Linked DNA regions of Homo sapiens: region 1 is linked to region 2. The links come from fine-mapping of genetic effects on gene expression. Tissue or cell type: prefrontal cortex. Region 2 holds a variant in brackets; the other region holds the start of a gene. All regions are shown on one strand. Distances are between the middles of the regions. Region 1 holds the start of WDR11-DT (WDR11 divergent transcript). Region 2 overlaps LINC02930 (long intergenic non-protein coding RNA 2930).

The links. PIP is the estimated chance that this variant, and not a neighbour inherited with it, causes the effect.
Region 1: WDR11-DT starts here. The variant in region 2 is fine-mapped to the expression of WDR11-DT in prefrontal cortex (BrainSeq, PIP 0.95).

The regions. Positions count from the first base shown.
Region 1 is chr10:120,849,023-120,853,241 of GRCh38, forward strand. WDR11-DT (WDR11 divergent transcript) reads right to left here and starts at 2,157. Exons shown (of 3, transcript NR_033850.1): 1 at 1,672-2,157. WDR11 (WD repeat domain 11) reads left to right here and starts at 2,340. Exons shown (of 29, transcript NM_018117.12): 1 at 2,340-2,484; 2 at 3,502-3,613. The coding sequence starts at 2,399. RefSeq lists enhancers at 1,982-2,526, 2,005-2,124, 2,285-2,754, 2,527-3,070, 2,765-2,824.
Region 2 is chr10:120,761,185-120,765,708 of GRCh38, forward strand. All of the region lies in intron 2 of LINC02930 (long intergenic non-protein coding RNA 2930), which reads left to right. It overlaps WDR11-DT (WDR11 divergent transcript), which reads right to left. Exons shown (of 3, transcript NR_033850.1): 3 at 628-2,491. Among named protein-coding and RNA genes, the nearest start is that of WDR11-DT, 88 kb to the right of the region's middle. The variant T/C (reference allele first, on the strand shown) is at 2,179.

The sequences.
Region 1 (4,219 bases), 88 kb after region 2:
CAAGCTCGAGGATTTGCCCCCACCCAGGACTGGCAAATTAGCTTTACTCAACATGCCCGAGTCAGGAAACTAAAATACCTCTTAGTCCAAATAGACACTTCCACTGAATAAGTAAAGGCCTTTCCTACAGCGTCTGAGAAGGCCACCACAGTCATTTCTTTCCTTCTGTCAGACATAATTCCTCAGTTTAGCCTTCCACCTCTATACAGTCTGATAACAGACCAGCCTTTATTAGTCAAATCAGCCAAGCAGTTTTTCAGGCTCTTAGTAGGTGTCAGTGAAACCTTTATATCCCTTACAGGCCTCCGTCTTCAAGAAAAGTAGAACGGACTAAAGGTCTTTTAAAAAGACAGCTCACCAAGCTCAGCCACCAACTTAAAAAGGACTGGACAATACTTTTACCACTTTCGCTTCTCAGAATTCAGGCCTGTCCTCAGAATGCTACAAGGTACATCCCATTTAAGCTCCTGTATAGACGCTCCTTTTTATTAGGCCCCAGTCTCATTTGACACCAGACCAACTTAGACTGTGCCCCAAAAAACTTGTCATCCCTATCTTTTGTAGTCATACTCCTATTCACCATTCTCAACTACTCATACATGCCCTGCTCTTGTTTACACTGCCGGTTTACACTGTTTCTCCAAGCCATCACAGCTGATATCTCCTGGTGCTATCCCCAAACTGCCACTCTAAACTCTTGAAGTAAATAAATAATCTTTGCTGGCAGGACTATGCTGAATCTCCTTAGGCACTCTCTAATCAGATGTCCTATGTCCTCCCAATTCTTAGACCTTTTATACCTGTTTTTCTCCTTCTCTTATTCCATTTAGTTTCTCAATTCATCCAAAACCGTATCCAGGCCGTCACCAATCATTCTATACGACAAATGTTTCTTCTTACATCCCCACAATATCACCCCTTACCACAAGACCTCCCTTCAGCTTAATCTCTCCCACTGTAGGTTCCCACGCCACCCCTAATCCCACTTGAAGCAGCCCTGAGAAACATCACCCATTCTCTCTCCATACCACCCCCCAAAAATTTTCGCCGCCTCAACACTTCAACACTATTTTGTTTTGTCTTATTAATATAAGAAGGCAGGAATGTCACGCCTCTGAGCCCAGGCCAGGCCATCGCATCCCGTGACTTGCATGTATACATCCAGATGGCCTAAAGTAACTGAAGATCCACAAAAGAAGTACAAACAGCCTTAACTGATGACATTCAACCACTGTGATTTGTTCCTGCCCCACCCTAACTGATCAATGTACTTTGTAATCTCCCCCACCCTTAAGAAGGTTCTTTGTAATTCTCCCCACCCTTGAGAATGTACTTTGTGAGATCCACCCCTGCCCACCAGAGAACAACCCCCTTTGACTAATTTTCCATTACCTTCCCAAATCCTATAAAACAGCCCCACCCCTATCTCCCTTCGCTGACTCTTTTCGGACTTAGCCCACCTGCACCCATGTGAAATAAACAGCTTTATTGCTCACATAAAGCCTGTTTGGTGGTCTCTTCACACGGACGCGCATGAAACTAACAATGTATTGGGGAGAGAAACACACATCTGCAAATATCATTGCTGAAAAGAAATCATTGCATTAAGTGCTATAGTTAAAGCGTATAAACCCAACACTGAACACAAAGGAGGGAAGGACTGGGTCTGACCTGGAGAGCAGCAGAGGAGAAAGTGCGAAATGAAAGGTACCCAGCAACAGACAAAGGGTCACACTTGGCCCCAGACATAGTGCTTCTTCCTCAAGTGCGAAGGGAGTATTGCAAACACCAGATATGCAGTGTTATCTGTATTTGGAAATTGTTTATATTCAGGCCATTCACTTCATTCAGTCTGGCAATTTCATTCAATTAATCTCATTCATTTCTTAATTAATCTCATTCATTATTCTCTGTAAACTCCACGAGAGCGGAGACTTTGTGTCTTCTTCATCGGTAGATCCCCCATGCCTACTGGCACTAGTAGTTGCCCTAAATTCACTTATCAAAGGCAGCAAGAATAACTGGGACTCTTCTCTCTTGCTTTTCACGATTTCCAGCAGGGCACAAAGGCCTACAGTCCCCACCTGAAAAAAACAGACTTGACTGGAGGCAGCGCCTCTTCTTCCAAATACAGCCCCAGCTGACGCAGATTAGCACAACCGCCTAAGCGGCGGAACTCTGGAGAGTGCGGAACCTAGGATCCTAGGAAACTGAAGGCAACGGAACCTGGGGGCGATGGAATCCGGGAGCGGTGGAACCCGGAGCCTGTAGAACTTGAATCTAGAGGAACCTGACAGCGGCGCCGAGGGGGCCACCCGGACTCTGTTTGGAACGGAAGCACAGTGTCCGCCGCTTCCTGGTTGCGGGTCAGCGCCCAGGTCCTGGGCTGGCCGCCGGGATGTTGCCCTACACAGTGAACTTCAAGGTGTCGGCGCGCACCCTCACGGGGGCCCTCAACGCCCACAACAAGGCGGCGGTGGACTGGTGAGGACGCCGAGCTTCCAGGTCGCCAGGATCGGCCAGGAATGTGTGAGGGGGAAGGGGGAAGGACAAGAGGTTTCACCCCCTGGTTAGTTTGGCCTCGCTAAGGCAGGGAGCCGCCCTCACGCAATGAGCTTGCTTTCAGTTGGTGGATTTTTGTTGTTACAAAAGTGATAATAGCCCCGTGTGGGAAATTCCCCCATGCAAATACATTTCCCCTCTTTCTCGCGTATTTCTCTGCTGTTTTCTCTGCACCTCGCCCTTTTGCCGTTCCATTCCTCTCTCTTTTCCTCTCCTCCAGCTTCCAGGCTTCTCTCTCTCCACCATTAATTCCCTGTGCACTTTCTCTTTCCCATCCTGTCTTTTCTTTTTCGTTGTCTTGTATTCCTGTTGTCTTTCAACAATGTGCCAGACCCTGTGCTAGGCGCCTGTTCTTTCACCTGTCCTTTTCACCTCTTTTCGGGCTCCTCCTGTGTAGAACATTCCTGCCTTCAACAGGTCGTCTTTATTACTCTCTCCTTTCACTATAAATTACTACTGCAGCTCTGAAAACTACTCATTAGACAAATGTAAAGCAAAATTCTGTGGCTGTGGGATGTTGTTAGGAGGACTGAAACGTCTTGTGCAGTGTTTGTCGTTTTATTTAGTTGGAAGGACTAGGATTAGTCGCAGTATCCCCAGGCACATTGTGGATACTAAGGATTAGAAATCGGATAAGCGAAAGACGTATGCCTACAAGAACAGTCAGAGGGCACAAGTTCCTTTTTATGTCCTCGGGTCTCTATTTTCATATCTTTTAGAACTTTTTTTATCCGAATGAAAAGTGAATTTCAACAAGCATTTTAAGCTTAGCCAGATCTTTTATTTAAGTGGGATAATGATAAATACTGGCCTTTGGGTTTAAATGATTTTATTAATGGTGGTACATATGAATTAGACTTATCATTTATTTAGGCTTGGCAAGAAAGAAGTCGTCCTGCTTTGTTCTGTACTTAAACTTTAACATTACTGTTTTGCTAGGGGCTGGCAAGGTTTAATTGCTTATGGATGTCATTCACTTGTGGTAGTGATTGATTCCATTACTGCCCAAACTCTTCAAGTTTTAGAAAAGCATAAAGCTGATGTTGTAAAGGTAAGTAAAATCCCACTTTGACGCTAACATGTTGTCTAGTCTAAAGTTTAATACTGTGTATCACTAAGCTCTCATTAAGTCTTACGTGTAAGTGTTGAATAGCTTTTAAATATAACAACCTATTTGGGGTAGCCTAGAATTTTCATATATATGACTTAATGTCAATACAGGGTGAGTTATTAAATGCTAGTTGTTAGATCATTTTAAGGCAGATGAAAGTTCTACCATTTACAAGACCACTCAGTCATTCCTTAGTTTTGAGCACTTACCATATGCTATGGATATGGAGATGAAAGCCCTCAGATAATTCTCCATCTTATAAGGAAGACTCACAGCGTGATAGTGTGATAAGTGAGACTTGCGTAACACGCTGTGAGAAAACAGAGGAGCTGCATATTGCCTGGTTGTGAGGAGAGTCACAGAAGTCTACAGTTTCAAGACTAGTAGACAGTAGTTAGCCAAGTAAAAAATTGACAAGGAGCATTGCAGGGAAAAGCAAGAATATACACAGAAGTAAGTAGCGTGCCATAAAGATGGCTAAAGATGGGACACTTGTAGGAGTGATGAAATAAGAGGCAGCCAGAGAGATTCAGCTGTCTGTCCTGA
Region 2 (4,524 bases):
TAAGCTAATTTGAAGTGGGTTTGTGACATTTGCAACCAAAAGAATTTCAACTAAGCTATGAGACAGCCCCCAGGCAACTGATAAATACCCTCTCCTAATGCTGCTTCATCCTGTCTATTATAGATTTAATAATTAGCTGGTTAAATTATCAATTTATGCAAGTAACTATCACAAGTTGAAACACTTATTTTTAAAAGCTATCTCTTTTTTTGGAAAGTTTGATGGCTCTTAAATAGCTATTAGAAAATATACTTTAAAGTTAAATAAGTTACATATGTCTCTGTACACATATATACGCAGAGACACTAATATTGGAAAGTTAATTGAATTGTCAATTGTGTAATATGAAATTTTAAGTTTAAAGTTCGTTTTTAGTTTTGTCAATTATAAAATACTGTTTACTTGTTGCAGAAAATTTGAAATTGTGTTAGTTTTGTCCCACACATTATACCACAGGGCTTTACTTATAGTTTATCTGATCCTAATCACAATCTATAAGGTAATCACTATCCCTGTTTAAAGACAAGAAACTGTATGTTGTATAGTGTGTGTGTGTGTGTGAGAGAGAGAGAGAGAGAGAGAGAGAGAAGAGGAGAGAAGAGAGAGAGAGAGAGAACCCAAATCATTAAATCAAACAAGTTTATAGCACAGACTAACCGTAAAACATATGGAAAAGGATAATGATTACTATAAAGCAATTCATAATACCTATCATCATTGGGAGCAAATGCATGCAGAAAAAGCTTACTTTGGAGAACCTATTCAGATTTATGCTCTGCAGCCAACATAAATATGAAAAAAAGTCTATACATTTCCACTGCATTTGGCAAAAATAAGTAAGAGTGAGGGATGCCCTGGATACACTTGCTGAGTCACACTTGCCACTGAGGCAGGCAGGAGGGAGCATAGCATCATGGAAAATAATCATTCGTAGGCAGCTTTGATGTGAACGTGGTTTGCATGGTTTAAGGAGGTATGCTCTTGTCAACAATACCACAGCTTCCATGTCAAAAGGCAGGTCTCTCCTAAGAACATTAAGCATGTACTTATCTCCTCTAAGACGTGAGCAGATTCTATTTTACACACCCGTGTGGAAGTCAGCGGGGTATTTTAAGGGCTCCCTCAGTTATTAAATTGACATTTAGGAGGGGTGCAGTGGCTCACACCTGTAATTCTAGCACTTTGGGAGGCCGAGGTGGGCAGATCACGAGGTCAGGAGTTCGAGACCAGCCTGACCAACATGGTGAAATCCCGTCTCTACTAAAAATACAAAAATTAGCTGGGCATGGTGGCATGCACCTATAATCCCAGCTACTCAGGAGGCTGAGGCAGGAGAATTGCTTGAACCCAGGAGGTGGATGTTGCAGTGAGCTGAGATCATGCCACTGCACTCGAGCCTGGGCGACAGAGCAAGACTCCATCTCAAAAAAAAAAAAAGATTAAAAATAATTTCACAAGTAATCTATTTTTACTAGAAAAGTTTGAACTTACAACTAGCAAAAATAATAAACTCTTCTATTGATATCTGGATGAATGTCCTTTCATACTTTTCTAAATATCTATATAAACACACTATATTTCATGAAAATGAGGTGAAAAATGCCTGCTTTATTTTACATAACAATATATCGTCAGCATTTTGTCATTGTAGGGAAACAGTTCTCCATGAGCCTCTCACGTTTCTGCACATCTTGTGAGCAGAGGCATTCTCCACCTATTTTTCTGTCTATCTTTTCACAGATATTTATATAGTGAACAGGTGTGGAAGATTGGGGTAGCGTCTCCCTTCAGAACAATGGCAGATGTGTTCATTGTTAACTATAAAAGATTTGGGTTTCCTAAGCTTGGAGTTCCTGTTCTGTAATACAGCCACTGATGGCAGTGCTAGTGTTACCTGGCCCTTTCCTGTAACTCGGTGGTAATTAGGACTTGAGAAACTGGCAGGAAAAAGGATCCTGAAATTCTGGCTCCTGATATTGCTGTGAGTATTAGAGACCTTTGTTCCTGACCCAGGAGTCTTGTGTCTTCTTTCATGAAGCTATAGCAGAGTTGTTAACTCACAAGTTGGGTAAAATCTCAGACTCCCTGTGGTTCTAGACAATTATATTGCTAAACTATTTTTCAACATCATCATTCTTGATAGCTGTATTTTGACAAGTGCACTCCGATGTCTTTATC[T/C]AATTCCCTGTCGGATTCTTAAACTGTTTTCATGGTCTTGCCCTTGAATATAATATTTGCATACAACATATTCATACAACATATTCATCCCTTATAAATAACTTTTCTAGATGAAGATTTAAGGAACTTTTGCTCTTGATGAACTGCATATTAAATACCATTTCAGATTTTCTGGGTATTTAACAATTAATTTCTATTGACTGCTCCTCTGTCAGTGGTCCTGAAGGTCAGGCTCATTGAGGGGATGGATGGGTCAACCCATGACAGATGATGGGATGGCTCAAGTGTCAGAGGCCAGTCATCCTAGGGTTAGCTGTGAAAATAGAAGGCAAAAGGTCAGAAATCCAAAAGGATGATATAGCTCAAAAACCTCACAAATACGTTCTCACCCTAATATTCCACCTCTACAATTTCACGTTTAGTTGTTGCCAAGTGCATGCACATGAGACAAAACAAAGCCAAGGCCAAAGCCTGGCTAATTCAGCTGGTAATAGACAGTGAACCACTTATAGGTTTAGACAGTTATTATTTTTATATAGACAGTGAAGAGGGGGGCCAGTTCCCCATGATCTTTCCCAAACACCAAACTGAGCAACCCTGAAATGGAAGGGATCAGATGACTACACCATGAGCTGGGGCACTTGCAGATTTTGGCTGAACAGTTTCGTGTTCTGCAGCTCTACTTTTGGAGTGGGGGAAACAGGGCAGAAAGCGCCAAACCTTGTCAGCACCCTGGAGACCTTGAGAAACTGATTCATGACAACCTCTCAAGGAGAGAGGGAGATGAGTGGGAGATGGCTTCACAGCAGCTCCTACAAGCCTCATGTCCTTGGAGGAGCACAGGCATTGTGCCAAGCCATTCAAGAGGTAGCTTCTCTGGTTAGGTGCAAGTCACCAGGGCACCATGGTGGAGCCATTGCCCCACACTTACCTTTTTATCCTATTCTCTCACATTTCCTCCAACCTCTGCCCACACACTATTGCCTGCTGCTGCACATTCTCCAGACATACACCCCACACACCTGCAGCTGTGCCTTGGTTGCAGGTGAGCTTTTAACTGGGGCCGTTTGCCTCCATCTCATACCACCTAGCAAAGTCCCAGCTACCTCCAAGCTGAGCTTGGTGCCTTAATATATTTAATGATGATGACATCCCAAGAGCCAGCAGGGTGGGTATAGTATACTCATTTTACAGAAAAGGAGGGGAGTTGTTAGGGAACTTGCTCAGGGCTCTCCAGTAGCAGAGCCAAGATTCAACTCCTTTGATCCTTTGCAGGATGCAGCACAAAGCCTAGCTCATAGCAAGTTAGAATAAAATGTCTGGAGAGTCACATCAAATGAATTGCAGCAAGGGGGCATCAAGAGGAACTGAATCCACAGTCTTGGATAATCAGATCTAATGGTGGGTGCCAGAGCAAGTGACAGTCAAGGTACATGAGGGATGGGGCACTATCAGAGTCAGAGCTAATTCGGCCTGAATCCTGGGCCTTGTACAGTCTGGTCTTGAAGGGGCAGGGCCCAGCGCTGGTAGAGCTGGGGACTAGCTGTGCTATTGGAAGGTTGTGTTTGAGGAGAGAGGATTTGAGCATAGAAGGGGCATTAGCAGGTTTGGGGTTCATCCTGATGTTCCCTAGCTTCTCCCTTCTCTCTGGAGTCCCTCCTCCCCCTGGCCTGTCTTTAGCCCTTTTAGTTCCAATCACTTTATCCTTTCAGCCTGGCCGAGCTCTCCCGCTGGTCTCATTCTCCTCTAACCAGACCTGGGGTTGTCGGCTGCTTTTGGAATTCACCATTAGGAGATGAAGAGGCAGCCACAGGTTGACTGAGCAAGCGTCATTGTCTATTTGAAGTTTCAAAGGTATCTCTGAAAATAAACACAGTTTTCTGCAAGAGTGAAATGGCATCTGTGGTAGAATTGGAAAGACAGTTGTCATTTTGCTTGGAGTTCCTCTTCTATAGATGGCAGCTGGGCCTTTCAAAGTCAAGGGTGACAGTCTGCACATGGCTTCTCCCCAGCACTGTACTGGCTGGTGGGGGTGGGGTGCAATACAAGAGAAATAAACTTCCCCGGTTTGCTGCTCTGACTGAGGCCTCCTTCCCCCACCCCCTCATCAGCCAGGATGCAGGACTCCCTATCTGGGTATCTTCCACATTGAAAATTGTGCTGTGTTGAGATAACATGGCACAGAGATTCAACCCACAGGGGTTTTGGGGTTAGGCAGGCATAGCTATAAGCCTCAGCACTGCCCCTCTACAGCAGCTTTTGTAATGTTGAGCAAGTGACTTTGCCTCTCAGAGCCTCCATTTCCTCATGTGTAAATGGGGATAAGAGGATCTGCCTCCTAGGATG